Regions from separate parts of the Homo sapiens genome. Here all the other regions are linked to region 1. Evidence: fine-mapped expression QTL. A gene starts in region 1. Each other region holds a variant in brackets. All regions are shown on one strand. Distances are between the middles of the regions.

Region 1 (2,752 bases):
GCTGGAGTGCAGTGCGCAATCTCAGCTCACTGCAACCTCCATCTCCCAAGTTCAAACGATTCTCCTGCCTCAGCCTCCCAAGTAGCTGAGTTTACAGGCCCCTGCCACCAAGCCCAGCTATTTTTTTTTTTTTTTAGTAGAGATGGAGTTTCACCATGTTGGCCAGGCTCGTCTCGAACTCCTGACTTCGTGATCCGCCCGCCTCAGCCTCCCAAAGTGCTGAGATTACAGGCGTGAGCCACCGCGCCCAGCCGTAGCTTCTTCACCTCTATGAAAGAGATCATAATAATACCCATGTCACAGGGATATCGGGGAAACTAAAGGCAGTGATGTACAGCCCTTAGCGCCGTGCCTGGCTTGTGGGGAGGGCTCCATCCACATTAGGTGCTAGTATAACTAAGAAAAATATTTCTACATGCTGTTGGGAGGGGTTGGGGGAGGTCTCCAAACATCACAACTAAATCTGCGATTCCAAGGAAGAATTAAGAAGTCTTTTAGAAAACCACCACTGCCAAATCTTCCTTAATTGTTCCTTCAAGGAAGCTGGGGAACTTAGGTAACCAACCAGGCACCCAGCACAAACCGTGACTGAGATTTTAAAGTGAAAACTGAAAAAGTTTAAAAGAACACATAGATCTCTGGGGGGAGCACGGAGAAGACTAGGTCGCATTAAGGGCCTGGAAGGACCGGTGGCAAAAGGCAAAGGATGGAAGTGTGGCACTTCTGGATGGAGGCAGTGCAGGGTGGAGATTCAGAGCCATGGCCGAGCTTCCTTATGGAACCGGCGCCACCCCTCCAAGGCGGTCAGGTTTACTGGGCGCCCCGGAAACGGCACTCCCTGACTTGTGGCGTTGGCCCTGGAAATTCAGGTAGAAAGCAGCAAGCAGATGTTTTCACACACCCTGAAGTGTGCGCGATTGGCAGCGGCTGCCCAGAGAGGTTCCAAGAGAGTGGGAGCAATCCCCAAAGAACCCGGAGCAGGTTTGGTTGCCCGCCCCGCTGCCCTCCTCGCCCCTCCAGGAAGGCCTAGGGCAAAAGCGCGCTGGCTCGGGAGCCAAGCGCGAGGAGCTCTAAGCCAGTCTCAACCTCCTAGCTTGGACCTCGGTCTCCTCCTCCAGGCATTGGGTTTGCAGCGGGCAGGGGTGTGGGAACAATCTTGGAGGCCCACCCAAGCCCGGCCTCCCGGAGCCTCCCCCAGAGTTTGGGAACGTCCCAGTCTCGTTCCCTCTCGACGCCCCCGGAGTCAAGACGTGAAGGGAGTGCCAAGGCGGCCGGGGGCGGCGAGCGGGGCCGCGGGCGCGCACCGACTCAAGAGCCGACTGTCAGCCTCGGCGGGCCGGAGTTCTCCGGCGCTGGGACAGGGGCGCTGGGACAGGGGCGCTGGGGGCGAGCCCTGGCGGGGGCCAGGTCCGAGGACCCTGGGCGCGGCGGCCCCGCCAGGAGGTCCGGCCGCGAGCGTGACCTCACGGGGAGGGGCCAGCGCGGCGGCCTGGGCGCTGAGCCGAGCGCCGGGAGAGCAGCGCAGAAGCCGAGCCGCGAGGAGCGCACTCCGTGGCCCCGATGGAGCGGTACAAAGGTGAGGGCGCGGGTTCCTCGCGCGGCGCACACCCACTCCCTTTCGCCCAGCGACGCGGAGGGCAGGGCTAGGACTCGTCTTGCCAGGACTCGGGATAAGCAGAGCCCACTGCCCCCACCCAGCCCGGACCTGGGCCTAAGAGGGGGCGACAGCGGCGCCGCGGACTGGGCGGGTGGGCTCCTAGGTGGCTGCTGCGGCCCGAGCCCTTTGATCCTCCCGGGCGCGGAAGGAGGGGGTCGTCAGTGGGGGGCGTGGCGGGGCTTCTCACCTGTTGCAGGAGAGAGGGTGAGCCCGGCACCCCACTCCACCCTCAGTCCCGCCGCACAGGAAAGATGCCTGGGGCCGAGGAAGCCCCGAAGAAGGTGGGAACCGTGCTGAGCTGCTGGGGGCAAAGGGTCGGGCTGTTGAGTCCTTTCTCCCGGGCGCCCGCCGGGCTAGGGGCTTCCTGCTCCCGGCAAAGCGCTTGGGCAGTGGAGTGGGCGCGCAGACCCTCCCCGGGCTAGGTGGGGCCTCCCCAAACGTCCTGCCGTTCGGGTCATCGTTTCTCTCCAAGCCCTTCTTTGCTCCCCCACACCAAGAAAGGAGGGATGCGAGGGTCGGGGGCCGAATGGAGTGCCCGGCAGGTGGAGCTCCTGGAGGCGTCCGGACCCGAGGGCTTAGCTCAGTGCGCAGCTGGGCGAGCTTTGGGTTTGGCGGGGGCCAGGATCTCCGCCAAACCCCGGTGGGCGGGCCGTCCCGGGTGCGCCGGACGCCCAGCTTAGCACCCACACTCGGAGCCTCGGAGCTGGTCTACAAGTCTCGATTGCGGTTCTTTTGAAAAGGGAGTACAGGGAGTTGCCCCTTAAGAGGAACCCTGCGGGCGCTCCCCCCTCCCCCATCCTCCTGCAGACCCCTTCCCTTTGGAAAAGCCTCTTGCCTTCTCTTTTGCTGGACCGGTCTCCGCCAAACCTGCGGGAGGAAATGCTGCTTCTATATTTGTTTTCCCCTGGGAGAGAGTAATAAAAAGAGAACGCTCAGATTCCCAGGAATCTCACTCCCGGAGGGCTCTGATCCCTGAAACTGACATAAAGGGACCTGTTGGGACCGGCTTCCCTAAAGTAGTCTTGTCTTTCACTTTCCCATTGCTTTTTCTCATCTGGGTAGCCTGGTTACTGGTGAAGGCAAAAGATCCAAGTC
Region 2 (2,752 bases), 26 kb before region 1:
TTTTTCTGTTTGCGGCCCAGGAAGCAGTGGGAGGTGGTGGCAGATATGCTTTGCATATGGATTGTTATGTTTTTATTTGGGCAAGTTTAATCATGGAAAACTCAAAAAGAAGGGGGGAAATGGTCAGTTTAAGCCAAAAGAAACTTTCTAAACAATGTATAGGTACACAGCAAAATTAAACAAATCCAACAATTTCTGAAGCTTAGTGTAATTGAGTGGTGGTTGTTATTCAATAAAATTATTCCCAAAAGTGTTTCTCCTAAGAGTGCAGTTCCCATGAGTCACTTCCTGAACCCATTGACCAAAGGTGGACAGAGACAATCCTGTAGACCTTGACATTCAGAAAGATGTGAGCTGCTTACTGATCATATATGCATACGTTTCTTTACAGCAGAGGAAACCATTGTCCACAAAACTGATGTTCTTTTGGGGTTTTATGTACAGACTTGTCCAATCATGTGTGTGGTTCCTGCGAGTTGCTGATGACTCCGCATTGAAGCTCTCTGAGTTCTTTGATTTTAAGTTGGGTTTATGGAATTTTTTCAAATGTTGGAAGGTGTGTGGTTCTTCCTGCCCTCCCTCCCCTTTTGGAAATATGAAAGCAAATGTTTAGAAGAATTCCTTTTGAAAAGCTGTGTCGTGTTCCCTGTGAAACTGAGCAGGTGTGTGTTGGCGCGCTAAGTGCCACATGCTTGTGTGTAGAGGAGGAGGTGGCCCTGCCGGCTCCGCGCTGCTGTGCCTGTGATCCCTACCTGCTCCCCGCTCCTGTTGCCAGCAGCACTCACTGCACTCCTTTGTCATATACTCTGCATCACTGTCATACTCACAACTTCGTGAATAAAGTTGTGTGCTTTATTCGTAGATGCCTCCATACCTGTGTTTCATTTCTCGTTCCCTGGCTCCCTTTGAAGGTCTATCTCATTTTAAAAAGCACCAACGCAACTTCCAATAATCAAAACAAAATCAGAATGAACCCAAGGCTGTGGGAAT[A/G]CATTTTTATCATGCAGGTGGAAAAATGCAGCAAATAACAGCAGGATATTCCAGGACTGTGTGTCCAATAACCCAGACCATATTGACCAAGCTGTCCAAAGGAAAGAAATGTTTAGTAGAGCCATTACACTGTGCTGTGTCATAGGTGTTTGATTTGGTTTGTGACACAGCAGGGATAGTCCCATCATTTCGACAAAGCTGGGGATTTGAGGAGGTTTGAAGCTTCTGAGCCACTATGAGTGTGGGCCACTTTTTAGTAAGAAGCTAGAATGCAGTAGGAGAAAAGCATCCTTCCAATTTTGGGCATCCCCTGCATGATCAAACTTTACATGAAGAAATTGTAGATGTTAACTTCCTTGTTATCATCACTGCCAAGATTTTAGGCTTGCCAGAAAGTACAAGGATCTATGTCCAAGATGGCCCACTCCAACGATAGCCTTCCTTCTGCTCTGTGTCTGCTGAGACTACCCAAGACCCAGTCACACTGGCATTCACATGACCCTCCCCTGGAAGCGGGATGCAGGTTGTTTTCAAGACAGTTGGCATCTTTAGTTCACCACCATGGAAAACAGGCCGGGAGACCTCAGCTCAAGGTCTGTGTTCTGCTCATCTCTGCCTCCACCCGTGGGAAAGCATCCCTGCTGTGGTCCATAATTACCATAGCTAGGGGTCATCTCCAGTCCTTATGAACTCTCTGTGGGATTTGGCTCTGGTGGCCACCTCTCCAATGGAAGTTGACCCGTGCCTCACTTCAGTTGCTAGACTTTAGTCAGCGAATCTCACACTGCCTTTGCTGGGAGTGGAAGGATCTCGCCTCACCCACTGCTCAGCTGCCTCTCCCCCAGTACCCTGCCTTCAGATCTTGCCAAACCACTGCAAGTTCCCAGGACATACCATGCTTGCTCCCTCCCAGGCAGCTTTATCAAAGGTATTTCTTCTTTACGATGCTCAACTCTTCAAGGAGGTGGTGGAGCAGAGAGGACCTGGCCCCAGGGAAAGGAAGTAATGATCAATGTTGACTCTTTAAAAACAGCTACCCATCAGCTCTTTGGAGTTACCCATGTGAATTTCCCATGGGCTCCATTTGTTCCAAATTAAAGACAAGTCCAAGTTCACACCCTCTCTATGAGCCTGTCTTAATGGGCCCAGCCCAATCTGCATGTAATTCTTTGCATGCCTCTAGTTGAACCTCAAGGTCGGTACTTAGCAAGTGTTGCCTCGAACTGCTAGCTGCGTGGGTTTCTGCTCTTCAGTTGAACTGTAGTGAGATCTCTGTGCTGAGCGCCAGGCACCCTAGCTTGGCATAACTATATTGCTCGTGAGAGCCTTTCAAAGTAGACAATTGTAGCTCCACTATACAGGTAGGAAACCAAAGCTCAGAGTCTAATCAAACATGCCCAATCACTCAGCCAGTGAGCAGCAGAGCTAGAATTCTCCAGGTCTGCCCTTTTCAGATCCCATGCTGTTATCCTCCACATCCCATTCCCTGTGACTTTCTTAGGGCAAGGACTGTGTCCCACATTCTGAATCTCCCAGGGCACACTGCACAGAATGGGTTCTTAGTGTGAGACCGGCCAGCGCCCTTCAGTGTGGCCATGAGCCCCAACACTACCACCAAGGCGCATTTATGAACAGTTTGGGGGTTACTCACTGTCTGTGTGTCTTGGAGCCCGTTTAGCCTCTCTTCAGCCTCAATTTGTTCATCTGCAGAATGGACAAGATAATAATATCCATCAAAAGACTGTTGCCAAATTATAGCACG
Region 3 (2,752 bases), 100 kb after region 1:
CACCTGTGTCCCCTCCTGCACCCGCGTCCCCTCCTGCCCCTGCGCCCCCTCCTGCACCCGCGTCCCCTCCTGCACCCGCGTCCCCTCCTGGATCTGCCTCCCCTCCTGCAGCCCCGACGCCTCCTGCATCTGCGTCCCCTCCTGCAGCCCCGACCAGTCCTGTACGTGCACCCCCTCCTGCATCTGCATCTCCTCCTGTAGCCCCGTCCCCTCCAGCCCCGCTCCCTCCTGCAGCCCCGTCCCCTCCTGCACCTGCATCCCCTCCTGCATCTGCATCTCCTCCTGCATCTGCATCCCCTCCTGCATCTGCATCTCCTTCTGCAGCCCCGTCGCCTCCTGCATCTGCGCCCCCTCCTGCATCTGTGTCCCCTCCTGCAGCCCCAACCCCTCCTGTACCTGCACCCCCTCCTGCATCTCCTCCTGCAGCCCCGTCCCCTCCTGCATCTGCGTCCCCTCCTGCACCTGCGTCCCCTCCTGCATCTGCGTCCCCTCCTGCATCTGCATCTCCTTCTGCAGCGCCGTCCCCTCCTGCAGCCCCGCTCTCTCCTGCAGCCCCGCTCCCTCCTGCAGCCCAGTCCCCTCCTGCATCCGCGACCCCTCCTGCAGCTCCGTCCCCTCCTGCGTCCGCATCCCCTCCTGCATCCGCGTGCCCTCCCACATCCACGTCTCCTCCCGCAGCCCCGCCCCCTCCTTTATCTGCATGCCCTCCCGCAGCCCCGCCCCCTCCTTCATCTGCGTCCCCTCCTGCAGCCCAGTCCCCTCCTGCAGCCCAGTCCCCTCCTGCATCTGCGTCCCCTCCTGCAGCCCGGTCCCCTCCTGCATCTGCGTCCCCTCCTGGAGCCCAGTCCCCTCTTGCATCCGCATCCGCTTCCCCTCCCGCAGCCCCGCCCCCTCCTGCATCTGTGTGCCCTCCCGAAGCCCCGCCCCCTCCTGCATCTGCGTCCCCTCCTGCAGCCCTGTCCCCTCCTGCATCTGCACTTCCTCCTGCAGGTTACCTGAACGTGCTGGTGAACAGCCAGTGGAAGTCTCGCTGGTGCTCTGTCAGGGACAATCACCTGCACTTCTACCAGGACCGGAACCGGAGCAAGGTGGCCCAGCAACCCCTCAGCCTGGTGGGCTGCGAGGTGGTCCCAGACCCCAGCCCCGACCAC[C/T]TCTACTCCTTCCGCATCCTCCACAAGGGCGAGGAGCTGGCCAAGCTTGAGGTACCGCCGGCCTGCAGGGGGAGCAGGGCCAGCCAGGGTGTGGCGGTGGTGGCTGTTTGCTGCCAGTCTCCAGGACTGTAATGCTACTAAGGGAGAATCAATGTCCCCGCGTGTTATTTTTACTTCGTTTGCCTGAGATTGTTTGCATTTTTAAAAATTTCCATTCCTTTTCTGACCTCAGAGTAGTTGCGTTATAAGAGTGGAACCATGCGCTACTTCCTGCACTTAGGGCAGAAGGAGTATTTTTAGTTCTCTGAGCTACTGGAAAAGCTGCTGGGGATTCAAAGTGGGTGTTGTTTTGTTTGGGTATCACCAGCTGGGAGAGCCTCTAGGCCCAGTACGTAAAAACCACACTGTTAGAGCTTATCTGGGGGAAAAAATTCGCTTTGTGATACAATTACATTCCTCTCGCTCCCCATCCTCCCTTTGATGTGATGTTACGTTTACAAAAATAAGAAGTGACATAACGCTTTGCAAGCTGCGGCAGGCGGAGACCGAGTCCCTTCCACGCATGGAAGCACACACTTGCCCGTGAATGTCCGTTCACTTAGTCTTTGATGTGGAGGTCCTCATCCAAACTTTGCTCCAATCCTGCCCTCTGGTGGCTGAAAGACCCACATCGCAATTGCTTCCCAGGGTCCAGCTTGTAGCTTATATTCATCCATTCAGAGGTTCCCCATCAACAGACATCTTCTCAGCACAGGAATATGGTGGACAAGAGCAATATGGACTCCGTCCTTGTGGCACTTACATCCTAGTTTGGGAGTGTGATGTTATTCAGCAAATTACCCAGCCAATCGCTGGGCTACAATGGCTGGAAAGAAGTGGGGAGGGTGCTATAGACTTGTACTGGGGTCTGGGTGACAGGCTGGAGCGGGAGGGACAGGGCTTGATCCTAGGAGCAACGGAGCCCTGATGGCTTTCAGGGGAGGGCGGCAAGCTCAGATCGGGGTTTTGAGATGCTTCCTCCAGCTACTGGGGTGGGAGTGGATCGGAGGGGGCAAGAAGGGACCTGCTAGGAAGCTGTCGCAGCTGTCCAGGGCAGAGACGCAGCCTGGACTAGGGGAGGCCCATGAAAAGCTGTATTTAGAATCCAGTTGAAACTAAGTGGGGGCCGGGCATGATGGCCCACGCCTGTAACCCCAGCACTTTGGGAGGCTGAGGCAGGTGGATCACCCGAGGTCAGGAGTTTGAAACCAGCCTGGCCAACATGGTGAAACCCTGTCTCTACTAAAATACAAAAATTAGCTGGGTGTGGTGGTGGGCGCCTGTAGTCCCAGCTACTTGGGAGGCTGACACAGGAGAATTGCTTGAAGCCGGGAGGCAGAGGCTACAGTGAGCCAAGATCCCACCGCTGCACTCCAGCCTGGGCGACAGAACAAGATTCTGTCTTTAAAATAAAAAAAAACTGGGAAAAGGAAACCAACTAAATGTCAAATTCTGCTCATCACGGCCTCTTTGATGAAGAGAATGTAGCAGCAAACGTGATGGAGCTATGGGTTATACCAAAGGGGGCTGATTTTCCTCATCAAAATAAACCTATAGCTTTG

Alleles and levels. Alleles are on the strand shown, and positions count from the first base shown. SD is a standard deviation of normalised expression in the study named. Not every link is listed here.
As copies of G replace A in region 2, the expression in pancreas of the gene that starts at base 1,514 in region 1 goes down (large effect, 1.2 SD a copy in GTEx).

What was found. PIP is the estimated chance that this variant, and not a neighbour inherited with it, causes the effect.
Region 2: its variant is fine-mapped to the expression of AFAP1L2 in pancreas (GTEx, PIP above 0.99).
Region 3: its variant is fine-mapped to the expression of AFAP1L2 in whole blood (TOPMed, PIP above 0.99). The same link has a PIP of 0.9 or more in blood mononuclear cells.

The regions. Positions count from the first base shown.
Region 1 is chr10:114,403,264-114,406,015 of GRCh38, reverse strand. AFAP1L2 (actin filament associated protein 1 like 2) reads left to right here and starts at 1,514. Exons shown (of 19, transcript NM_001001936.3): 1 at 1,514-1,576. The coding sequence starts at 1,561. RefSeq lists an enhancer at 979-1,479 and silencers at 1,433-1,512, 2,310-2,359.
Region 2 is chr10:114,429,221-114,431,972 of GRCh38, reverse strand. ABLIM1 (actin binding LIM protein 1) reads left to right here. Exons shown (of 23, transcript NM_002313.7): 23 at 1-861. Among named protein-coding and RNA genes, the nearest start is that of AFAP1L2, 26 kb to the right of the region's middle. The variant A/G (reference allele first, on the strand shown) is at 991.
Region 3 is chr10:114,303,169-114,305,920 of GRCh38, reverse strand. AFAP1L2 (actin filament associated protein 1 like 2) reads left to right here. Exons shown (of 19, transcript NM_001001936.3): 11 at 991-1,202. Among named protein-coding and RNA genes, the nearest start is that of VWA2, 65 kb to the right of the region's middle. RefSeq lists a silencer at 903-952. The variant C/T (reference allele first, on the strand shown) is at 1,152.